Linked DNA regions of Homo sapiens. The protein of the gene in region 2 interacts with the protein of the main gene of each other region in a biochemical or structural test. Each region holds a gene or a part of one and is shown on either strand. Other genes may lie near its edges. The genes, in order: ITGA5, CLK1, PKD1L1, DSC2, TMPO, MAP3K21 and CDCP1.

Region 1 (3,500 bases), on a different chromosome or scaffold from region 2:
CACCCGAATTCTGGAGTATGCACCCTGCCGCTCAGGTAGGGGCAAGAGGGGGCCTGTGCCCCATGTCTGCCTTCTCATATACTTGAAGTGTCTCACATACTTAGGGTTGACTCGCACCTACCATGTGCCCCCATGAGGTTCTAGGTTGCTTAAGATAAAGGCTAACCCAGTTCGTTAGCCTTTATGCTTACTGTCTGGTCCAGGAAGGCCCTTTCTCTGGTTCTCTCTCCCACCTCCTTCCCTATGCCCTCTCTTCTTTCCTGGATGACCCATCTATGCAGGGCTCATTTTCACCACCTTCTCCCCTCACAGATTTCAGCTGGGCAGCAGGACAGGGTTACTGCCAAGGAGGCTTCAGTGCCGAGTTCACCAAGGTGAGAGAGTGGTCTGGGAGAGAAGGGGCCGTGGGTGGTGGACATGGGGGGATTGGGACCAGATGTTGGACTCCCCTCCTTTCACCCACAGACTGGCCGTGTGGTTTTAGGTGGACCAGGAAGCTATTTCTGGCAAGGTAAGTCCTGTCTCTGCCATTCTTTTTTTTTTTTTTTTTTTTTTTTGAGACGAAGTCTCACTCTGTCACCCAGGCTGGAGTGCAGTGGCACAACCTCTGCTGCCCAGGTTCAAGCGATTCTCCTGCCTCAGCCTCCCAAGTAGCTGGGATTACAGGCGCCTGCCACCGCGCCTGGCTAATTTTTGTAATTTTAGTAGAGAAGGGGTTTCACCATCTTGGCCAGGCTGGTCTTGGACTCCTGACCTCGTGATCCACCCCTCTTGGCCTCTCAAAGTGCTGGGATTATAGGCATGAGCCGCCGCGCCCTGCCTGTTTCTGCCATTCTTTAAGTCCCCTGGCACATAGCCTCCCACCCTACTCCCAATTCTCCTCTTCCTTTCCTGAAGCTTACATGCCACCACCCTCCCCATGCTTCCCTTTCTTGAACCAGACTTCTGAAATACTACCCAGTCAGCCCCCAGAGTCCCAAGCCCCCTCTGCCACTTCCTCTCCATCTACTCCCTCTTCATACTCTCTCCAGGCCAGATCCTGTCTGCCACTCAGGAGCAGATTGCAGAATCTTATTACCCCGAGTACCTGATCAACCTGGTTCAGGGGCAGCTGCAGACTCGCCAGGCCAGTTCCATCTATGATGACAGCTACCTAGGTGAGCAAGCAAGTGGGGAAGGGATGGCAGAGGGAGAACCTCAAGTGCTCCTGTCCCCACTCACCCCCTCGCCTCCCCTCTCCTACTCAGGCATCCCCAGCACCCCTGCCATACTTGTCATGTGCCTGCTGACTATGAAGGCCCAGTAGGGGTGGGGAAGGGATTGGTGGATAGGCCAGAGCAGAGGGGTCCTCAAAGCAGGAATCCTAACATCCACCCACCCTGTCCCCCAGGATACTCTGTGGCTGTTGGTGAATTCAGTGGTGATGACACAGAAGGTGAGTGTGTCCCCAGGCTGGGGCCAAGGGAGGGGGATGGTTAGAGGCACAGGGCCAGAGAGCCCATGAACTTGGCCACTTACCATTATCTGCTTCCCTTTCCCCACCCTTAGGTCACAACTTTCTCTTCTCTTTGCAGACTTTGTTGCTGGTGTGCCCAAAGGGAACCTCACTTACGGCTATGTAAGACCCAGCCTGACCCCTCACTTCCTCTCCTCCCCTGCCTAATCACAAAGAACCGTGCATGGCAGTTTGCAAGGGCTCAAAAAGGTGGATCAGAACATGGGCTCTGGAGGCAGACTGGCATTCAAGTTCTGGCACTTACTCTGGCAGAATCATTCTGCTCTTTATTCATACTCTGCTTCCTGCTGAACCTCTCTGAGCCTTCTTCTTCTCTGTATACTGGGATAACAATCGTTCTGACCTCACGAGGCTCTGGCAAGGATGAAATGAGAAAATGCATGTGAAAGTACTCAGTGAATTGTTAGGCAATGTACAACTGGCAGATGTTATTATTAGACCAGGACAAGTGCTTTTTAAAAGATACAGATAAGAGTGCCATCGGATTTCATTCAATTAACAACATTTATTAAGGCAAGGTAAGAGATAAGATGAATAAGGTATCATACCCCATCTTATAAGATGCTTCTAATCAAGTATGTTAGATAAGACACACATACAATTATGATCTAAAGTGGAGCAACTATTCATTCTCTACTCAGTGCATCAGGCACTATCTATTCATGATTTCTATTCTTCACAACAAGCCTATGGGGTAGATATTATCATCTGTATTTTGCATATGAGAACACTGAGGTTCTAAGAGACCAAGTAAGTTGCTTAAGATCACCCAGTTAGTAAGTAGGTTTAAAATCAGGTCTCTCTTAATCCAAAATCAGCATTCTTTCTGCATTTTGGTAAACTTCAGCAAAGTGGATACAGTGGCATAGCAGTTTAGGGGAAAGAATAATCTCCTTTCTAGGAAAAGGATGGTAACAAGTTTGGGGAGTCAGGAAATAAAAATTTTAAATTTTTAAAAAGGAAGAGGACAGATGAGAGAAGGTTCTATGAAGGTTCAGCAGAGATGAGGCAGGAGGGCATCCTGTGCAGGAGCATGAATGAGGTGGAAGAAAAGGAAACAATTTCAGCCCAACTTAGCAGACTCATGAGCTGATTGAGGATGAGTAGAATATGGAAAGGTTGAGCAAAAACAGATAGGTTAGGGCCAGATTCTCCAGAGCTTTGGAGGACCAGCCAAGAAGTTGAGACTTTGGGCAGTGACTGCAGGGGGCCACTGGATTTCCAAGCCAGAGGTAGCCTCCTAGATCTGCTGGGAGAGCTGGAGGCAGGGACATTGTCAAGACATCTGTCCAGCAGTCCTGGGAAAGGGCTCACACCAGGATTCAAGAGGCCTGGTGGGGCCAGTCACTAAGGGAATATAGGGGAGAAATGGTGTTTGTGGTTCGGGGGACTGGAGGATGAGGATGACTTAGGTTTTGAACGTGATGGGTTTGAGGCACCAGCACACATTCAGTCATAATTATTATTGAGTGCCTACTACTCACCAAGCATGACTTTAGGTTCTGAGGAGAAAGCAAAGAACAAAATCAAGTTCCTGCCCCTATTGATCTTACATTCTAGTGGGTAGAGAGGGACAACGAACAGATAAATACAAAATCTGTCAGTGGTTGGTGATTGATAGGGAGAAAAATAGTGAAGCAGACATAGGGTGGAACTACCTGGCATAGAGGTGGGAATATGAGGGCAAAGCTGAAGAGGGAGCTAGGGACAGTGGTCTGCGTCTCTAAGGAATGCCTGCCCCTGGGTGTCCTGTACACATCTGTTCTTTAACCATGGGATATTCTGGGAGTCCAGGACCAATGGGCCTATCTCTTCATCTCCCAGGTCACCATCCTTAATGGCTCAGACATTCGATCCCTCTACAACTTCTCAGGGGAACAGGTAAGGATACCCCTCAACCCCACCCCAGCTTGGCCTCTGTCAACGAAGCCCCAGCCCTGACCTAATAATGTCAGCCCAACTTCCCAGCCCCTCTTGATCCTGT
Region 2 (3,500 bases):
AAACTGTACTACTACTCTGACCCACTGTATTTTTTTAATTTATGGTTTAGTGTTCAGTTCTGATTCTATTACATGCTGAATGACACAAATTTCTTTCATCAAACCACCACTCACATGAGTTATTTTTTGGTATTTCAGCTAAACAACTTCTTCCTATATGGTACCTGTCACTGTCAAACATTATCTCAAATGTTCTTTTAGTCCAGGTTGCCAAAAGAGTTAGGATACAGTGGGGAAAGAGTAAAGAGCTCTAGGACCGGGAGCAGTGGCTCTCACGCCTATAATCCCAGCACTTTGGGAGGCCGAGGGTAGTAAATCACTTGAGGTCAGAAGTTCGAGACCAGCCTGACCAACATGGTGAAACCCTATTTCTACCAAAAATATGAAAATTAGCCAGGCACGGTGGTGTGTGCCTGTAATCCCAGCTTCCTGGGAGGCTGAGGCAGGAGAATTACTTGAACTCGGAAGGTGGAGGTTGCAGTGAGCCAAGATTGCACCACTGCACTCCAGCCTGGGCGACAGACCAAGACTCCATCTCAGGGAAAAGAAAAATAAACAAAAAAAGAGCTCTAGCTCTCATGTCCTTACCAATCAATAGTAGGAAGCCCCCTCAAAAATGCTTTGCCATTCAGGAAGAGGAAGAACAATAACAACAACAACAACAACAACAACAAACAGGGAACTAAAAAAAAAGAGTAACGGAAAAAATTCTATACTATCTTAAGAAATTTCATGGCTGGAGCCAAGCGCTCATGCCTGTAATCCCAGCACTTTGGGAGGCTGAGGTGGGCAGGTCACCTGAGGTCAGGAGTTCGAGACCAGCCTGGCCAACATAGTCTCTACTAATACAAACAATACAATACTAATACAAACAATAGCTGGGCATGGTGGCGCGTGTCTGTAGTTCCAGCTACTCAGGAGGCTGAGGCAGAACAATCACCTGAACCCGGGAGGCAGAGGGTGCAGTGAGCTGAGATTGCGCCACTGCACTCCACCCTGGGTGACAGAGCGAGACTCTGTCTCGAGAAAAAAAAAAATTTCAATCAGTAGTTTGATAAACATACATAATTAAACTTGGGACACCAAGTTATCTCCAGCTATGTTATCAGAATGAATTACAGCACTTCCTAAAAATATAGATTCCTAGGTAACTACCCTGAAAAGGTCTGGGGTAGGCAAACCTCTCGAGGAGGATCTTAACATAAAACCAAGGCTGAGAACCACTAATATGGTGGGGGAAAAAAATATGGCCTAACAACAGTGTCCAGTTGAACAACAAAACAATACTTTCAAAACAATATAAAGTGTGTTCTCAGCCTAAAATTAGAAATTATACATACTATTAGTAGCTGTTTAAAAAATATGAAGGGGCAAGTACCTCTTAACTGGAAGTGTCTTACATCCAAGTAAAAAAGGGTATAAAGATATGTATCTAACTCATGGTCAGACCACTTTCTAAAGCTAAATCAATTACCTGTATTGCCAACTTCCCTAAAAGTAATCCCAACATGGGAAACTTACGCTTTATGATCGATGCACTCCACAACTTTTCCAAAAGCTCCTTCACCTAAAGTATCAACAATTTCATCTAAAAGAGAGAAATAAATCTCAGTCATATCAAGAAGTGGAAACAATGTACTTATCACAATAAATGCTATCAATGTAGATTATTCTAGTTGATGCTACAAATTTCCTTATCACTAGATATTTTATTGGTCAACACCATCAAAAAACATAATTATTAGGTCTAATTTCATTAATTTGATTACTGTTCTGGAAGTTCTATATAACAAACATTACATTTCTAAAGAAAGCAAAAATACAATCCCCCCCACCAAAAGAAATGGAAAAATAAAACAAAAACAAAAAAGAGAAAGAAAAAAAGATTTCCAAATCCCTGAAAGCTTAATCTATATATAGATTATGTTATCTGAAAAGTTAATAAGTGTTGAAAAATATTCTATACATCTTGCACTTAGTACGTCTCCACTCTGACAGATCAGGTGACCCTCCTCATCATCCTCTACACTCCTGGTTCTTTTCCTTCGGTGACTCTTCTGGAAACGTCAAGTGGGCGGCACCAAGATCATCCAGCCAATCAATATACCCGAGTGAATTCAGGGCAGAATACGAAATTCATTCAGCGGGGAGATATTCAGGCATTCAGATACACGCCAGGCCACAAACGGTTGGCAGGAGCAATTTCAAATTCAGTCCCCAGAAATTCACAGGGCACATAGTTTATGTTAACAGGAGAAAAACATGGCAAGGAACAGATTTTCAGATAAGATACTCAAAGTGGCAAGGCAACAAAACATAATACAATTGTTTTTCTTAAAAAAAAAAAATGCTTAGTTGTAGCATTCACTGAAACATAATTTTTTAGTTTCTAGTGTTCTAATTTAATGTTGCAAAATCGTATGATGTAATATTTACTTGTCAAAGTAGGCGGTGGCCAAATTAAGATTTCCTACCTAATCTAAGAAAACAAATATTATAACAGTAAATAAAATTAAAGTGCTAATTTTGGGGAAAAAAAGATTTGGCATACAAGAATAACACTACGGCATTTTTAATGTCATCTGAGCTGATCTCCATACTAATATATAACCCATAACAGTTCAAATCTGTTCTGGTTTGCTTAGTGAAAGAAGGGTTAGAAAACATGACTTGTTAGAACAAAGAAGCATACCTAATCCTAAATTATACAAAAATAAAATGCCCTGTTCTACTTTTGTGATTTCAATAGATCAAAACTAATCAGGTTTCTTGAAGTACCACAAAAAACCCTTTTAGAATATTTTGTAATAATTTTCAACTAATCTAAATTAAATCAATTAACTCCCATCATTTCACTGGAATGTCAATTAGGAGCCAACCAATAATTAAATTATAGAACTAAATGTGTACTTTATTTCCGGAATTTCCTATCCAATGCACAAACACAGAAAAAATCCTGCAGGTTAAAACTGAGATGATTTCATCTTAAAACTTTCTCAAATAATCAAACACAAAAATTCAAGTTTCCCTGTTCCACATGGGATATAAAATTTCCAAAATGTTTTAAAAACGTTCATACCCCATGTGAACGACGATGTGAAGTACTGTGGTGAATCCTGTGTTTGCTTTTATAACTACTTCTTCCACTTCTACCAGAAGACTTGCTACTATGGTTCTGATACCGGCTTTCATGGTCTCTTTGGCGATGTCCAGGTTCACATCCTTGAGTGTAGTCATTTCTGTACTCATCAATGTAGCGTCGACTATGATAATCTTTCTCATTTATAGACCTGCTTTCCAAATAATGGCTAGAGAAATAAAAATTATTTTCAATGTTTTATGCTAAGACCAAATATCCTCACATTCTCTTCAAGACAGCACCTAGACTCCCCCACAAGCAGCTTAATTTTACAAACATTACAAACCATCAAAATCTCTCATTGGAAACAAACGAATGGTAGTAATCAGGTACTTATTTTAAGTGATACTAGTTTTGTCTA
Region 3 (4,183 bases), on a different chromosome or scaffold from region 2:
TTAGAGGATTTCTGCAATGATCTAGCGGGCAAATAAAATTAAGGAAAGGACGAACCTAACCTCTGTCCACCACGTGCGCCCCACAGTCCACAGCTGTGAGACTGCCCACCACTCTGGGCCCACACAAGGTTAGATAGCCCTGGCACCCACCAAGTTCCGAGACCCTCCCAGACACCCCCACAACAGGATAACTTCCAAGTGCTACACACAGAAAACACCAGCCCTGGTTCCTGGGACATAGTTGGCCCTTGAGAAGTAATTTTCTGTCTCAGAAGGTGAGAAACACATCCCCAACAGGTGTGTCCTCCACTCACAGAGGCGCCAAGGATAGTGCTGCAAAGCTAATTTTCCTTGAGATTTCAGAGGTCTTTTCAAATAAAAAAAATGGAAGGGGGAGATAATTTAAATACAAGGGAGGCTCTTTTTCCTGGTGTTGTGAGGAGGCAGGTCCCCAGGCCCTGGCACAGAATCAGCACCATTTTCACAGAGGTACCTGGCTTCCTCTTAGTTAACTGTGACTGTCGGGGAACAGGATGATACTGATGGCTCAAACACAGTCTCTGAGGCATCATGTGCCTCAAGGGAACTAGTCGAGCCATTTGTTTGAATTACATGACAGATCTCTTAGAATCCCTTAAGAGTGAGTGTTTTTCGGGGCCTGTCAGGGGCTGGGGGGCAAGGGGAGGGAGAGCATTAGGACAAATACCTACCACACAAACACACACCACACACTCACACCACACCACACTCACACCACACAAACACACCACACAGCATCACACACAATATACACACACCACACAGCACATACCCACCCACCACACACACATCGCACACACCACACACCACGCACCACACAAACACACCATACACACAAACACCACACACACACCAACACATTACACACACATCACACAGCACACACCATGTATCACACACACACCATACCCCACTCATACCATACCACACATACACCACACACTACACACAGACCACACACCACACCACCCACACACATGTCCTATACCACACACACACACACAGACACTACAGGCCTAACTCCATGAAATGAGGGCTACAGGAGAGTCAAGAAACCTCTTCTGTTTCTATGAACAAGATCAGTCACTGTCTTGCTTTAGGTGACTCAGGAAACCCCAAAAGGCTATGACTTCAGAAATGGGGCCTCGACACCAATTACAATGGCTAGTGCGTGCATGAACTAGTTGGTCTGCAAGTACAAGATGTATAAATATACAGGGGAAAAAACATCAAGTCAGCGACTTCCGCTCCTCAGCTTTTCTTTCCTTTCTAAGGGCAAAGGGGTAATTCCTTGCAATTCCCTGACTGATAAGAGTGAAGGTCAAATTGGGCCAACATCAAGGCTCTGGGAGTCTGCAGGAGCATGGGCATTTGGAATAAAAGAAACATGAGGTAACCAGAAAAAATAAGGGAAAAAATTGTAGCCAAAATCAGACAATGCTTGGCAGCAGTGAGTGACATAAGGCAAAGAAATTTCCAAGCATGAATGTGACCAACCCCGTCAACACGTGCAGCCTCATTTTCTCATCCTGGTTTGCTTTGGGTTTCTTTGATAAAATGATGGTGATGGCACAAAGACAGTAAGCTAACAAAGGCAGAAATGCTGACAGCAAGCATTCATCAAGGATACTGATTTTTATAACGACCCTCTGGAGTTTACAGATGTGACAACAGGGGTACTCAGATTTTCAGGATGAGAAATCTGGGGGTGAGGAGGTAAAGTGACCTGCAGTGGCGGGGTACCCCACTGGGCAAGATCTGCAGGCACAGGCTCCCATCATGCCAGGCCAGGGGACAGCGGTGACCCACCTGGGTCCTTACCACATCCCACAGGCAGGTCACCTTGCTGGCCTCACGCCCAGGAAAGGGGGCATGGAGGTTTGCACCATGTCACACTGCCATGAGACAGTCAACAGCAGAGCACACAGGCTGCCCAGCCTCAACAACACATGGGTGCTGGCGCGCACAGAGCATGGGGAAGAGGGTTTAGAAATAAGACCCATGGAGGCTGGGTGCGGTGGCTTATGCCTGTAATCCCAGTACTTTGGGAGGCCAAGGCGGGCAGATCACAAGGTCAGGAGATCGAGACCATCCTGGCTAACACAGTGAAACCCCGTCTCTACTAAAAATACAAAAAATTAGTCGGGCGTGGTGGTGGGCGCCTGTGGTCCCAGCTACTTGGGAGGCTGAGGCAGGATAAATGGCATGAACCCAGGAGGCAGAGCTTGCAGTGAGCCAAGATCGCACCTCTGCACTCGAGCCTGGGCAACAGAGAGAGACTCCGTCTCAAAAAAAAAGAAATAAGACCCCTGGGCCAAGACCCCATGATCTCTTCCTGTGCCAGGTTTCTCCTGGTCTCCATGCAAGGGACCTAGCAGACAAGCAGATAGCTTAACTTTGTCTACTACCAGGCAGCAGAAAGTCCTCGAACTTGGAAGGTATCCTGCATTTGCAGGAAGAGCAATCAGCACTTCTCATGGCTGAAGGCATCCGCTTGGAGGAGTCTTCTCAAAAGCCTTCAGGAAAAAACTCCATTCTCAACACCAACTCCAACCTCTGAACTGACCCCGCCGGCCAAATGCACCCTCCTGGTACAGGGCCTCCACTCGTGCCAGAGTGAGCCCACATCCTAGAGGTGATGACTTTTGAAAGAAAATTTCTGAATGCATACTTTAAAATCAAGCTTACCAAACCCTCTGAGAACAGTGATAACTCACCTTTCCTGGTCATCAGAAATGTTCTGGGCTGCCTCCTCGGCCATGTCCTGTGCAAGCTGGTCACAAGTATGACAGTCAGCAGACCAGCTTCTTCCTACATCCTCTGGAAGACAAAGAAATAGAGCTTAATGCTTCCAGCTTCTGTACTTGTGACCTCTTATCAGGACACACATCAAACACAGAGGGAAAAATCCAAACTCCAGTAACATTTTCCCAAGCAGAAACAGCTTTTGTTTTCCTAACACTGTCAGACAAATTCCTTCCTAAGAAGTGTGCTTTTGACAGACGTGGTGGCTCATGTCTGTAATCCCAGCAATTTGGGAGGCCAAGGTGGGTGGATCACTTGAGGCCAGAAGTTTGAGACCAGCCTGGCCAATATGGTGAAACCCCGTCTCTACTAAAAATACAAAAATAGCCAAGTGTGGTGGCACACATCTGTAATCCCAGTTACCCAGGAGGCTCAGGCGAGAGAATTGCTTGAACCTAGGAGGTGGAGGTTGCAGTGAGACGAGATTGCACCACTGTGCAATAGAGTGAGACTCTGCCTCAAAAACAAAATGAAACAAAACAAAACAAAACAAAAGTGTGTTTTAGGTAGGGATCTTTGTGGCTGCCTGAAACAGATCACTACTCAAGGGAGAGACTGTACATGGAAGCTGAGAGAAGTCTGAGAATAAAAAGCTGTAACTGTTGGCTGGGCGCGGTGGCTCACGCCTATAATCCCAACACTTTGGGAGGTCGAGGTGGGCGGATCACGAGGTCAGGAGCTCGAGACCAGCCTGGCCAGCATAGTGAAACCCCGTCTCTACTAAAAATACAAAAATTAGCCAGGCATGGTGGCACGCACCTGTAGTCCCAGCTACTCGGGAGGCTGAGGCAGGAGAATTGCTCGAAACCGAGAGGCGGAGGTTGCAGTGAGCCGAGATCGTGCCACCACACTCCAGCCTGGGCAACAGAGCGAGGCTCTGTCTCAAAAAAAAAAAAAAAAAAAAAAAGCTGTAACTGTCCACAACTGCACTGGGGAACAGGATACCTTCCACAAGAGCAGAAGAGCATTCCTAAGGAAGGCTGGCAAGGCACACACTAGGCGCACTCTGTCTTACGGCAGAACCTAGGAATGATCTGGTTCCGAACCTCCTGCACCTCTCCTTGTTTGCAACTGGCGGGTCAGACTGAGTTCTCTCCATTACGAAACATTTTCTCTTATATTTTTAAAGCACTTGTTAGTTGTCTTAGTTCTTTATACCAACATTTAAACCTTCAGAGATTTTAGAAAACTTAATGTTTTACTCAGAACACTAGATATTTTTTCTCTCCACTCTGAAGAGAGTGATACCAAGAAGAGTGGGAACGTTTTCAGGCACAAGCTCTTTCTCAGATGGGAACACAGACCCCTTGAACAATGATGAACCAAGCTACGGGTGTCC
Region 4 (3,041 bases), on a different chromosome or scaffold from region 2:
ATTGAAGTTTGAGGCAGTGGAAAGAAAAGATCTTCCTCTGAAAACTCTGGACATTTGGTGGAGTCACACCTCAGCAAAGGACTTAAGTTAGCCCTAAAGTCTCCACCAAACCTGCCCTAAGAAAACTTAAGAAGAAACCTCAAAAGGACTCAATTTATTTGTTTAATAAATAACTTAAACTGCCGCCGGAACAAGGCTCAACAAGTAACAAAATTGATTTTGTTTATTATAATAAGGTAAAATTCCCAATGTCCAGCACTAACTTGTTTACAATTTTAAAACAAGCAAGCTTTTGACAGCTTTCTTCCCTGAATGATAACAGAAACTCACAGTACACCTGGCTCCCCACAGGAGGACATTTGCCATTGATTCCAAAGGAATTCTGTAATGATGTAAATGTGAAGGGATTGGGACATCTCTTGCTAAAAAAGGTCACACACACACACACACACACACACACACACGCACACGTAATATTTGTAAGAACATTCCATTACAGATTTTTTGTGGCACTTTTTAATAGTACGTCTCCGTGAACATATTATATCACTTCTGGGACTACATATTTTTGAGAGCAGAGGCCATATCTTACATACAGTAGATACCAAATAAATTTTAACACCGAACATTTACATAGAACTATGTTCTAGCAATTTTTTAAAGCAGATGAGGAAACTGAAGACTAGGGAGGTTCAGGTTACACAGATGGTTTGTGGTAGAGCCCAGATCTGAACCTTGCCTGTTGGGCCCCAAGGGACCCAAAGTTCAGGCTCTATCCCAGACCGCTCTGTTAGGTTGCATGGAGAATGCGATGCATTGTGCAAAGATTAACTGTGATTGTGTCTACTACAGGAGAAATAAGGAGCAGCTTAGCTTGCTAAAAAGTGAACACATTTAATTGGTTTAAACTTGCATTCATTATGCAAACTTTGCTTGAAATATTTCATTTGACAATTCTAGTAAATTAATACCTATTCTTAGTCTAGATAGTGCATAACAAATTACTGACGACAAATCCTAAGTGCGTTAAAGTAAAATTTTAAGACCAAAAGCACATGAATGCACTCAGTTATGATAATGTGAGATGATACAGTATTTTCTTTTTGCTTTCAATTTAATCATTTACTGTAAATATAATATGTTCAGTGAAAACTTTATTTATTAAAGCTAAGATGAAAAGGCTTTTCTTCACAGGCCTGTAAGCTCCCCAAATTCTAAAGCCTGTGAGTTTTTCTTGCTCTGTATTTCATTTACATGAACTTTTCCCTCAATGTTATAAATTATAAATGCTTGTGGTAAAATGAAAACATGGAAACACACAATGAATAAATATTTCATTTACCGAGGATTTATCACTCAATATCTTAGTGTATTACAGATAGTCTCATATTTATTTAAATGTGAGATTATAATAATTTGGAAACCTATCCTAGTTTTAAAATACTACTATAGTTTATGTCTTTTCCCATTTAATTAAAGTTTTCAAAATAAAATGATTGCATGATATTCCATCATCATATCACAATAGTGATAGCTGCTGGTTATTGATATACTGATGAGCCAAGCAGTAAGCTAGGATCTTTATGTGAATTATATAATTTATTCCTAATTTGTCCTTATTTGATATGCTAGAAATTTGAGGTTTCTGTGATTTCCCAAGGTAACACAGCAAGAACAAAGCTGAGATTTGGATCCACGTCTTTCTGACTGCGAAGTCTGTGTGTGATCATTGTTTCCATTGTCCTCAATTATGGTACATTGTATCACAGTAATGGATCATACATCATTTAATTACTTCCCTGTCATGGAACATTTAGTTTATTTTCAGTTATTCATATATTTAATGCCACTGAGACAAACATCCTTGCATGTGAGTAGAATCTTTACACTATTCTCTTACTTCTTTTGGATAAATCCCTTTTACTTGATTTCATTGGTAATTCTGCATCACATCTTGTGTATATTGACACCCTCTGCTCCTTTCACCTCTGGCTTTCTGAGCCTCTCATTCCCTATTGGTTAACTCATGTCCTTGGTGCCTGGGAGTTTTCCAATTGGCCCTGTTCCCAGGGGAACACTCCTTAAGCTGAAAAGTCTCGTCTCTACCCTCATCTCCCATCCCTGATTCACAGGCCCCTCTGAAGCTCCTGGCCGCCACAGTCAGTGAGCATTACCTGTTACCCCACCTGACACAGGTCCCCACACAACAGCACAGTGATGCCAAACAGTTGCTGCCTTCTGGACAGTCACTTGTTCCACCTGCTGTTGACCTTTCTAGTTCTATTTATCTCTGGAGATTTGGCAATTCTGATTTTTAAAAATATATGCAACTTACTTTGCATACATCTTCTTGACTAGCAGCATTTATGTGGCAAAACTTGTTAATTTTTATTAAATGTTTTCTGTGTGGCTTTGTTCTGCATTCCTACCTTAAGACTATTTCTCTCGTTCACATGCATGTAGAAAGTAGAAACCACAGGGAACAATGTACATTCTGAAATGCTTAATTTGCAGACATTGTGAAATTTTACTCATCAATGTGTTTCAACTCTTTGGTACATTTCTAGCATTTTGCTTAATATGTTTTATATGAAAAGGCAAATTTTAAATACTTAAGTTTCATAAACCACCAAATAATCAATAAACCCAGTTACTAAAACCCTAACGATTGTCAAACTTTAGAGTAAGAAAAAATGACCTAGAAAATGTATTGAAAAGTGAAGGCTTCTATACTTTTCCCCTACTAGCCTGTTACTCCTGTGACTGATTCATGAGGGATCTCTATTTTCAGCAACACCAGGGTGATTCTGATGCTGATGGTCAGTGAAACACACTCTAAAAATTATACAAGCGAATATATCAGCAAGTTTGCCTTCATATTTGTTAACTGAAAAGCAGTGAGTGTTCTGCTCTGTCCTCTCCCTTGAATCCTAACAAAATAAGTAAACAGAAAAGATGTGGCTAGCAGAAACTCCACAATTCTAACCTCTCAGCTATGCCCAGATTTTCTGTAGGGATACAAAGGTACAGTCACAAAGGGA
Region 5 (3,500 bases), on a different chromosome or scaffold from region 2:
CAGCCTCCTGAGTAGCTGGGATTACAGGTTCCCGCCACCATGCCCAGCTAGTTTTTGAATTCTTAGTAGAGACCAGGTTTCACCATGTTGGCCAAGCTGGTCTCGAACTCCTGACCTCAGGTGATCCACCCGCCTTGGCCTCCCAGATTGCTGGGATTACAGGCATGAGCTACCGCACCTGGCAATAAATTGCTTTTGATTTTTTTTATTTTGCTTTTTCCTGGAGTATATTAAAGCAGTCTTTGACATAGTGTTTCACACATTAAAAAGTCAGCATTTTAGCATATATCTCTGAAAGATAAGTGCTATTCCAGTGACAATGCCAATATCACACCTAATAAAATTAATAATTTATTTGTATCTAATTCATGTTTAAATTTCTCTAGTTTCAGAAATGTTTCGTTTATGATTATGTTGTTCAAATCAGGATCCAGACAGGATCCACATATCCGGTTTGATTTTTGGTTGTTTTACTCTCTCAAGTCTGTAGCTGTTACCACTGTAACTTTTTCTCTTCCCTCCATTTATTTGGTGAAGAAACCAGGTCATTACAGAATTTCCCAACATTCTGGATTTGTTAGGTTGCTTCTTTATGTCATTTAATTAGCTTCTCTATACGCTGCATTTTCTGTAGAGTGGGTTAGATCTGTAGTGAGGCTATGCAGTAGACCTTTCTGTGATAGAAATTTTTCATACCTGTGCTATCCGTTACAGTAGCCACTAGCTATTGAATACTTCGATGGTGACTAGTGAGGCTGAGAAACTCTGTTTTGCTTTGTTGTTGTTGTTGTTTTTGTTTTTGTTTGTTTGTTTTTTGAGATGGAGTTTCATTCTTTTTGCCAAGGTTGGTGTGATCTCAGCTCCCCACAACCTCTGCCTCCCAAGTTCAAGCGATTCTCCTGCCTCAGCCTCCTGAGTAGCTGGGATTACAGGCATGTGCCACCACGCCCGGCTAATTTTGTATTTTTAGTAGAGACGGGGTTTCTCCGTGTTGGTCAGGCAGGTCTCGAACTCCCGACCTCAGGTGATCCACCCGCCTCAGCCTCCCAAAATGCTGGGATTACAGGCGTGAGCCACTGCGCCTGGCGGAAACTATGTTTTAATTTTAATTTAAATTAAATTTCAATGACCATATGTGGCTAGTGGCCTACCATATTGGACGGCACAGATCCAGAGGGTTGGTCAGATCCATGTCCAGTTTCTTTCACAAGAATACTTAAATGATATAGCGGCCTTCCTGTTACATCGTTTTAGGAGGTATAGAATGTCTTTCTGGCGATGCTAAAATTAGTAATTGATTTAGATTTTGAAAGATTAATCCATCTGTTATAAAGATCCACATTGTCCTTTCATTTAATGGTTCTAACAGCCATTGTCATATGATTATTGCCTAGGTCTATTATTTTGAGGTTTTTTTTATGTATTGAATTTATGATCAGTTACAGTCATCATTCTTTTTTGATGTTCACATTGTGCCATCTGTAGCCATTAGGAATTACTAAGTTGGTTCCTGTATTTTTTAATTCCTTCCCCCATTTATCTTTGATAGTTTCTTGTTTTCTGGAATAGTAAGACGTCCCAGGCTCATGTATACTTCCTGCGTCATGCCTGGAATCAGCCATGTTTCTAAGGAACCGTGATCCTTTTAATAGATAATACTATTTGGAAGCAACAATTTGGATGCTGACATGTTCATTCCTACTGGTTGTCATTGTTTCTGGGTCTTTTCAGTAGGTAGTGCTAGGTAAATCATGAATTAATGGTGATATTTCAAATTTATAAATACAGGCTAATTTTGGGTTATGTTATACTTGTATCATTTTTATCTTATGCTGAATATCTTGGTTCTTCAAATGATGTTGTTACTTATGTAAGTATCACAACATATATGTGTTTCTAAATAATACAGTATTACTACTAACAATAAGACTGTTAAATGCAATTTGGGCTTTTGTTTTCCTTGTCTTTAGGACATATCCCACTAGAATGTAATGTCAAAACACTGTGCTTAAAGTCACTTGAAAGAATTTTTTTGTGTCATACAGCCACCAACTTAATAGTTAGGTTTTTTTGTTCTCTAATGCTAGGATTGCTTTTTCTTTTATTATTTTTTAATTGTGTTGAGAGTATAATGTAGTTTTATGTAGGCAAAATAAGGTAGAGTCAGAATTTTGGCTTCTGTCCTTTTCCCTTCCATCTACAGATAAGCATTTTTATTGTTTTGATTTATATTTTGTTTCTTTTTAAAAATATAAGTAAATATATAGATTTTTATATGCTCCCCTTTTACATAAAATGCAGCCTGCTTTGTACATTTCCATTTTTAACCTAAACCTAGAGATCACTCCATATCGGAACGTAGCCATCTTCCTCATTGCTTTGTACAACTGCATTTTATGTGTTGCATTTTATGGATGTACTGTAATTTATTTAACCACTCTCCATTTGGTGAATATTTGAGTTGTTTTCAGCTGTATGTTGCTATGAATAATGCCAGGATGAACCATGGAGCAGCATTTTGCATGTGTCACTGCATATTTTTTGCCAGTTTATCTTGGGGAAGCGTACCAGTAAAATTGCTAGGTAATTTCACCATTACATTTCTCTGCATATGAGTTGAAGCATTTTGCATTCCCACCAGCAGTGTTTGAAAGTACTGTTCTCAAATGGAGGAATATGAGGCTTTTTTGTTTTGTTTTGTTTTTTAATAAAGTTAGTACGAGTAACCATATTGGTCATGTTTTACTTAAATTGATAGGCCTTCAAGATGGCTTTTAGTTATCTCAGGAGCTTTAGAAATTATCTATTCCCAGACCTGGAGAGATTCTGATTTAATTGGTTATGGTAGTTGGGGGCATTTGCTTTTTTTTTTTTTTTTAAAGCTCTCCTTGATGGTACTGTGCCACAAGGATTGAGAATCTCAGATTATAAAACTACCTTTCCGTCTATTCAAATAGTTGGTAATTTGACTATTAAAAACCACTTACTCTGGCCAGGTGCAGTGGCTCACACCTGTAATCCCCGCACTTTGGGAGGCCCAGGTGGGTGGATCACCTGAGGTCAGGAGACCAGCCTGGCCAACATGGCAAAACCCTGTCTCTACTGAAAATACAAAAAAATCAGCCAAGTGTGCTGGTGCGTGCCTGTAATCCCAGCTACTCAGGAGGGTGAGGCAGGAGAATCACTTGAACCTCGCAGGTGGAGGTTGCGGTGAGTGGAGATTGCACCACTGTACTCCAGCCTGGGCAACAGAGCGAGATTCTGTCTCAAAAAAATAAATAAAATAAAAATTAAAAAGCAGTTACTCTGTGTATGTCTGTAATTTGTTTACAAGTTTCTCTTTTGACAATAATTTTGCATTCAGCAAATACTTCCTAATTGATAGGATGAGGAACCCAGAGATTCAGATTGTGACTTAAAACTCTTATAATATCAATTCCAAATATAGATAAATACAAAACCATGATTTATGAGACTATGTCTGTAACTTGTGGGGTTTT
Region 6 (3,500 bases), on a different chromosome or scaffold from region 2:
CTAAAAAGTTAAAGGGCCTATAGCTATTACTTTTACACTGCACTTAGTTTTGTTTGGTTGCAATACTTTTCAAAGTTCATACAACACAGGGTAGAGAATGTTTGCTAGTGTTTTTAAAGCATGTTTTAAAGGATGTTTATCCATTCCTATGGGTTAATCCATAGGATTTATGGATCAATCAACAATCCATAGCAATTATTGCAAATAGTAAATTTTTATAAAGTTTTATAAAGTTTTATAAACTTTTATAAAATATAAATGTTTAAAGAACTCCTAATATTATTAAATGGTAAAAAGAAATAACATGACCCTGGAATAATAACTATGGCCGAACAGTTTTTACTGACACCAGAAAAACTTGTATAGTGGAGTATAGACTACTGTGTATTCAGTAGATATTACATAATTTGATGGTGATTACATGCTGCTACTTAGTTTTTGAAAGACTTTTCAGTCTCAGAATAAATTGCCAAACTTCCCGGAGTATTTTAATTTCTATAATTGTCAGGCAGGATTCCCTTTGCTTTAAATTGTTGCACTCTTATAAAAGACTTAATTAGCTAGTCACTAGCCTGGCCAAGTATTTGTTACAATATGACCATTATCATAGTTATTTAATTACTATAAAGTGAAGAGTTTGACTGGGGTCTAGAATGTGCAAACCATGGTGCCTCATACATGGTCTTTATCCTGAATGTCTGATTTTATTTGTTCAATGAATAAATGCAGATTTGAAATTCTCTGCTGATATATGAAGCTATGACTTCTTGTTTAGACTTTTAAGTATAACAGATACTCTATTGCAGTATGTTTTGTTTGATTTTATTGGATATTTGCTAATGGTGGTAGTGAGTTAGTGATAACGTAAACAAGGTTTTAAAAATCAATATTGAATTTTATTTTCACTCCGAAGTGTACTCATGTACCAAAGAGCTAATAGAAGACTACTTGGAGCCAATTCAGTGGAAATTACTGTTTTAAACAAATATTTAAATTTGTCTAGAGAATATGTTACTCTTGACAGATTTTCTTTTATCTTTTCTAGTAGATCTTCTCAAGTTTTATCATATCTTGTGAGGGAATGTCTGTGTCTAGATAATAGCTGATATGTTGTGAATGATATAAACAACTTTGTCCCTTTTCTAACAGGTAGCAACAGGTTGAAAGTTGTGCCAAGTTAGCAAGCTTTAAGCAACATTTATGTTTTAAATAAATACTAGGCCCTGTAACTCCCTTCTGGATGCAAAATAAGTAGAAAATACTTTATATAAGTCTACCTATAGGCACCCCCCAGAGAACAATACAAGGCAACTTTGAGTTACTGTGAAAATCGCCAGTGTTATGCGCATTTACAGAAGAGAGAAACATTGTGGAGAGCTGGAACTCATTCAACACTGTTGGAATGCCCACCCTGTGCCAGTCACTTCTGGGCCTCAGGGACACTGGCAAGCCAGACATCAATGACAACAAATCTGCCATCATAGAGCTTAGTCTAACGGGGAAGATAGATGGCAGTCACGTAATAACAAATAGATTAGAAAATGCCATCAAGAAAATTAAGCATGGTAAGGGGTGGAGAGTGGTAGAGTGGAGGATGGGGGTGCTGTTTCACACAGGGGCTCTCCAGGGAAGGCACTCCGAGGAAGGACCACGAATTCGTCAAGCAAAGACCCAGGCAAAGGAAAGAGGAAGCAAAAATGAGCCTTCCATATTGGAGGCCTAAGGAGAAGGCTGGTGAGGAGAGGCATGCGTGGGGCAGGCCTGGCAGGCCTCCCTCTGCTGTGCACATGGAGGTTTCACTTGGAGTGATGGTGCTGGCTTCTGTGAAGAACGGACTGCAGTGGGCTCAAGTGATGGCTTTCAAGGTTGTCTATATGAGAGGAGGCACCGACTCTGCCCAGAGTGGTAGCAATGGAAGTATTTTGCAGGGAGGTTACCAGGGGGCAGTGAAGATAAAATACTGCAATATAAGAATTCCCAAGGATGGTTTGAAATATTAGAATTTTGTTTAAGAGTTTTATTTATCAAATTGCAGAAGTGCAAGATTGAAGTAAGATTATGTGGCATCATGTATGGTTTCCTTTTTCTTTTTTGATGTTGCTTATTGTGTTCTATTTTTTTTTTCTTAAGAGGAAATAAACTTTCCATGGGGAACTGAGCCACAAATTATGGTAGCTACTTACTTTTATACTTTTTATGTCAGTGATTAAGCATTTATTATCTCAATTTTTTTAGTCTTTTAGGAATAATTATTATCTATCTACAGTATTATTTACAACTACAATAGTTGTATTTATTATGAAATGCCATTTGGAGCTCTTACTATGACAAACTGCAAAAGGAATATAAATTTTGTTTTAGCTTTTTTTCATTAGTACTGTGTAAATAAAAGAACTATCTGAGAAAATTATGGAAAATGTAATCTCCAGATAAGATGTTTAAATAGCTCATCAGAGTGATTTGGGGAAGCTACTAATTTCACTATTATCAGTTGTAAGACATAAGTTCCTTCTCTCTTCTGTTCTTATACTCAGGACATGTAGCTTCATGCTATAGCTGCTTCCTATTCCAGGAGGCACAGAGAAGTCAGTCCAGATGTCCCAATGGTAACTGAGATCTACATCTGCTTTTGAAACAAAGTTAGTGAAAGATTAGACTTTTAGAAGAATGGCAATCACAAAAGAGTCACCACATCTTCCCCCATCATTTTCATGTTTGCGTATTAAAAAGTAAGTAGCTGGCCAGGTGTAGTGGCTCATACCTATCTATCATCCTGGCACTTTGGGAGGCCAAGGTGGGAGGATCGCTTGAGCCCAGGAGTTTGAGACCAGCTTGGGGAACATGGTGAGACCCTGGACTACAAATATTAAAATTAAAAAAAAAAATAGGCAATGTCTTATTTTTTTGTAGTTGTGAGGGGTATAGCTAGTTAGTTCTGAATTATGCAAAGTATCCGTATTTGATCAGTTTTGTAATCATTATCAAGTATATCAAAGCAGGGTAAAGGAGACAGAGGAAAGTATTTATCTGCTCTACCCATTTAAGAAGGTCATTTGTAAGCCCTGCTTTTTCACACTAGCATTTAAGTGCTAAACCTACCAGAATAGTGCAGCTAAGGGAAACAGCATTGGCTTTTTTGTGTGTGTTTTTGTTTTTTTGAGACGGAGTCTCGCTCTGTCCCCAGGCTGGAGTGCAGTGGCACGATCTTGGCTCACTGCAAGCTCCGTCTCCCGGGTTCACGCCATTCTCCTGCCTCAGCCTCCCGAGTAGCTGGGACTACAGGCGCCCGCCACCACGCCCAGCTAATTTTTTTTTGTATTTTTAGTAGAGATGGGGTTTCACCGTGTTAGCCAGGATGGTCTTGATCTCCTGACCTCGTGATCCGTCCGCCTCGGCCGCCCAAAGTACTGGGATTACAGGTGTGAGCCACCGTGCCTGGACTTTTTTTTTTTTTTTTTTTTTAATACAAGGTCTTGCTGTGTAGCCCAGGCTGGTCTCAA
Region 7 (3,500 bases), on a different chromosome or scaffold from region 2:
CTGATCTTAGCTTGGTGCTTTCAAAAAGCTGAGGCTCAGCCAAGATCATCTGAGACAACTGAGATTACTTGGCTTGACTCTACATGATCTCTTGTTCTCCAGCCTGGGCTGTTTTCATGGCAGAGGCAGAGAGATCCACAAGAGACTGGAGGAGGCATATAAGGTCTTTTGATACTTTTAGGTTAGGAACTCACACACCATCCCTTCGACTGCATTCTTTTGGCCAGCCTAGATTTTTTTTAGTCAATCTACCAGCATCCTTTACCATTCATCTCTCTTTTACGTAGGGGAAGTCTCTTCACACCTATGATCTTCCTCATCTACAGAGAGTAGATAATAATAGCCACCTCATAAAAGTATCATGGGATTCGGTGTCATGAATTAAAATATGGGGACCTGAAAAGTCTGACAGGTACATGGTTTTTTGTTTAGTCTCAGTGAAACGTTGGAATCCATGAAATACCCTCAGTGGGAGGCCTTGGAGCCAGGATGATGAGTTTGCCTTTATTCCTCAAAGTCATGGGCACCACTAAAGGGTATCAAGCAAGGGAATGCAGGTGTGGCAGGGCAGGCTGTGGTGGGGCCATGTCTGCCCTTTACTCAGTGAAGGCACCGAGCATCACAGTGTCAGAATCAGAAGGGACTGTGGAGGCTGCTTTTTTCCCTTTCCCTTTCTGGGGGTCAGAGTGATTGAAGGTCCATCCAAGCCACACAACTGGTTAGCCTCAAGAGAACTGGTGGGAGCCAAATGCCACAAGTGAAAACCTCTCCACACTCATAGATTATATCCTGGGTTTTCTTCCTCTCTTAGATTCATTTTCTGTCATTTCTTTCCATTCCTCTTTCCTTTGGATCTCACCTTTTGTTTTCTTGGTGAATAAGCAAGACATTCTAATTCGCTGTTTGGTACAGGGTTCCCCCTCTGATTTATTTTCTTTTTCCTTTGTGCAGCTGCAGGAAAAGGACAGCACAAAGGAAACAACCCTCCCTTTAGCTGCCTCACTTCTGACTTTTGACTCCCTGCTTTCTCCTACCCTCCTCTGCTCTTCTCTTCTCCAAGACAGGCTGTGGCAATCAGTGGAACACACCTGTTGTAGGCCAGGAGTAGCCTTTGAAGTTGATCTGGTAGGTCCCTCAGTTTGTTTCAATTGTTCATTGCTATATACAAACTACCCCAAAATTTGGTGGCTTTGGCAATAGCTATTTTGTTTACCCACGATTTATGGATCAGGAATTCAGACAGGGCACAGCAGTGTATCTTATCTGTGCTCCAGGATATCTGGGGCCCCAACCAGAAGCCTTGAACAAGTAGAGAGGATGGCTTGGAGAATTCAACTGGAGACATATGTCTATGGCCTTTGGTTCTCACTGGGTTGATTTTTTTCCCCGGTGGAATCTCTACATGGCTAGCTTGGGCTTTCTCACAGCATGGTGGTCTCAGCATAGTCAGACTTCTTACATAGTAGCTGGCTTTCTCTCAGAGAGAAAGTGCAAGCTGACATCCTCTTAAAAGTTAGGCCCAGAACTGGCACAGTTGCCTTATATTGGCTGACCCAGATCCAAGAGGAAAGGAAATAAACACTTTGTGATATGAGGAGCCCCATGTGCACACAAGGAGCCACATGTATGGCGCTCCACCTTTGGAGAGATGGCAGCTGCTTTTGGAGATGCCTCAAGTTCATTGCAGAGCTCACCCCAGCTGCCTCTTCATCTGTCTCTTTATGTCTCTGCTCACAGACTTGACTGTCATCCTCATCGCAGCGGTGGGAGGTGGAGTCTTACTGCTGTCTGCCCTCGGGCTCATCATTTGCTGTGTGAAAAAGAAGTAGGTGGAATCTCTTACTCTCTTTATCTGATTTGATGCCTCCTCAGATCACACAGACTGGGTGGATTGTTCATTATTGACTTTGTTTTCTTGCTTCCCATTTTTTCCCCCAAAGATCAATGTTAAACAATATTGCCAGGTGTGAGTCATGCTTTCAGGAGAAAAAAAATCCCATGCCTGGGGGTGAGGGGGGGATAAAACACACGTGACATTTTCACCTGTATGTAGTTCATGGTGCAGCTGCCTCAGCACAAGTCCCCTGCAAGCAGAGTGCTGTTTGCTCAGTAGATTGATCAAGCAGGAGTGATCTTGGCAAGAAAATGCTCACGTAGGCTCTGCCAGACTGTGCCTCTGAAACCACTCCCTCCGTCACCCTAAGGAGAACGAATGTGTGTTGTCCCAGCTTGTTCTCCTGCAGTTTCTTAAGCAAACTGCTTTATCCTTGCCTGTTGGGCTCCAGGTATGTAACAGAGGCCAGGCCTGTGGCCCAGAGGAAGGAAGGCCCAGTTAACTGCCTCAGTCTCTCTTTCCATCCCCTCAGGAGGACAACTTCTGTTTTATTTATTTATTTATTTATTTTTGAGACAGAGTCTTGCTCTGTTGCCAGTGGTGCAATCTCGGTTCACTGCAGCCTCCGCCTCCTGGGTTGAAGTGATTCTCCTTCCTCAGCCTCCCGAGTAACTGGGACTACAGGCACACACCACCACGCCCAGCTAATTTTTTTTGTATTTTTTTGTAGAAACGGGATTTCACCTTATTGGCCAGATTGGTCTTAAACGCCTGACCTCAAGTGATCCACCCACCTTGGCTTCCCAAAATGTTGGGATTACAGGCATGAGCCACCGTACCTGGCTGAGCTTCTATTTTATAAAAGGAAAATGTTGACCTTTTTAGACAGAGTCCGTGCTGCCGCCAAACTGTATAAATTCTGCTCATATTTCTGACTAAAGTCATGGGAGAGAGAAGAGAGCTATTTTCCTTAACATGGTTTGACCTTCCAAAAAGCCAATCTGAAAAAATTCTTTTTTTTTTTAAGACAGAGTCTCACTCTGTTGCCAGGCTGGAGTGCAGTGGCGCGATCTCGGCTCACCGCAACCTCCGCCTCCCGGGTTCAAGCGATTCCCCTGCCTCAGCCTCCCGAGTAGCTGGGACTACAGGCACCCGCCACCACGCCCAGCTAATTTTTTTTTGTATTTTTAGTAGACACAGGGTTTCACCATGTTGGCCAGGATGGTCTCGATCTCTTGACCTTGTGATCCACCCGCCTCGGCCTCCCAAAGTGCTGAGATTACAGGCGTGAGCCACCACACCCAGCCAAAAAATTCTTTTTTAAAAATTAACTGTGGACCTGAGCAAAGAACTGAAATTCCTAGTCTACAACAAGACTGTCTACAAATGTCTCTGCTGATGAGGAAGGACTGGCTTGCAGGAGGTCTTTTCCCCATGAGAAGTGGCTGTACCTATAACACATGGGGGAAAAAGGACTGCTTTTAAGGAAACATCATGTTACTGTTTCTCTCAGGGAATTTTCCCATCTGCGGTGCACGGAATAGCCCACCCAGTTGGGGAAGCATGGCATTAACACTGGGCCCCAGGTTCCTTATCAGGAGGGAATTGGACAAGGAACGAGATCCAGCACTTGCCTCATCTTGAAACAGCGCCAGTTTAAGCCTGA

What was found.
Region 1: of the proteins of CLK1 (region 2) and ITGA5, one has a biochemical effect on the other in vitro, tested with the Homo sapiens proteins (one large-scale study listed by BioGRID).
Region 3: of the proteins of CLK1 (region 2) and PKD1L1, one has a biochemical effect on the other in vitro, tested with the Homo sapiens proteins (one large-scale study listed by BioGRID).
Region 4: of the proteins of CLK1 (region 2) and DSC2, one has a biochemical effect on the other in vitro, tested with the Homo sapiens proteins (one large-scale study listed by BioGRID).
Region 5: of the proteins of CLK1 (region 2) and TMPO, one has a biochemical effect on the other in vitro, tested with the Homo sapiens proteins (one large-scale study listed by BioGRID).
Region 6: of the proteins of CLK1 (region 2) and MAP3K21, one has a biochemical effect on the other in vitro, tested with the Homo sapiens proteins (one large-scale study listed by BioGRID).
Region 7: of the proteins of CLK1 (region 2) and CDCP1, one has a biochemical effect on the other in vitro, tested with the Homo sapiens proteins (one large-scale study listed by BioGRID).

What each region holds. Positions count from the first base shown.
Region 1 is NC_000012.12:54,405,767-54,409,266, reverse strand, and holds part of ITGA5 (integrin alpha-5 precursor), read left to right. Parts: coding exon 1-35; intron 36-312; coding exon 313-374; intron 375-465; coding exon 466-511; intron 512-1,031; coding exon 1,032-1,157; intron 1,158-1,390; coding exon 1,391-1,435; intron 1,436-1,574; coding exon 1,575-1,618; intron 1,619-1,760; exon of another isoform or gene 1,761-1,870; intron 1,871-3,340; coding exon 3,341-3,397; intron 3,398-3,500.
Region 2 is NC_000002.12:200,858,159-200,861,658, forward strand, and holds part of CLK1 (dual specificity protein kinase CLK1), read right to left. Parts: intron 3,309-3,500; coding exon 3,080-3,308; exon of another isoform or gene 2,058-3,079; coding exon 1,967-2,057; exon of another isoform or gene 1,589-1,966; coding exon 1,522-1,588; intron 1-1,521. UniProt on the Homo sapiens protein: Dual specificity kinase acting on both serine/threonine and tyrosine-containing substrates.
Region 3 is NC_000007.14:47,945,641-47,949,823, forward strand, and holds the start of PKD1L1 (polycystin-1-like protein 1), read right to left. Parts: upstream 2,801-4,183; coding exon 2,757-2,800; intron 1-2,756. UniProt on the Homo sapiens protein: Component of a calcium-permeant ion channel formed by PKD1L2 and PKD1L1 in primary cilia, where it controls cilium calcium concentration, without affecting cytoplasmic calcium concentration, and regulates sonic hedgehog/SHH signaling and GLI2 transcription.
Region 4 is NC_000018.10:31,058,340-31,061,380, forward strand, and holds the end of DSC2 (desmocollin-2 isoform Dsc2a preproprotein), read right to left. Parts: 3' UTR 501-3,041; downstream 1-500. UniProt on the Homo sapiens protein: A component of desmosome cell-cell junctions which are required for positive regulation of cellular adhesion.
Region 5 is NC_000012.12:98,539,590-98,543,089, forward strand, and holds part of TMPO (thymopoietin), read left to right. Parts: intron 1-3,500. UniProt on the Homo sapiens protein: May help direct the assembly of the nuclear lamina and thereby help maintain the structural organization of the nuclear envelope. Possible receptor for attachment of lamin filaments to the inner nuclear membrane.
Region 6 is NC_000001.11:233,330,724-233,334,223, forward strand, and holds part of MAP3K21 (mitogen-activated protein kinase kinase kinase 21), read left to right. Parts: intron 1-3,500. UniProt on the Homo sapiens protein: Negative regulator of TLR4 signaling. Does not activate JNK1/MAPK8 pathway, p38/MAPK14, nor ERK2/MAPK1 pathways.
Region 7 is NC_000003.12:45,087,379-45,090,878, reverse strand, and holds part of CDCP1 (CUB domain-containing protein 1 isoform 1 precursor), read left to right. Parts: intron 1-1,737; coding exon 1,738-1,825; intron 1,826-3,500. UniProt on the Homo sapiens protein: May be involved in cell adhesion and cell matrix association. May play a role in the regulation of anchorage versus migration or proliferation versus differentiation via its phosphorylation.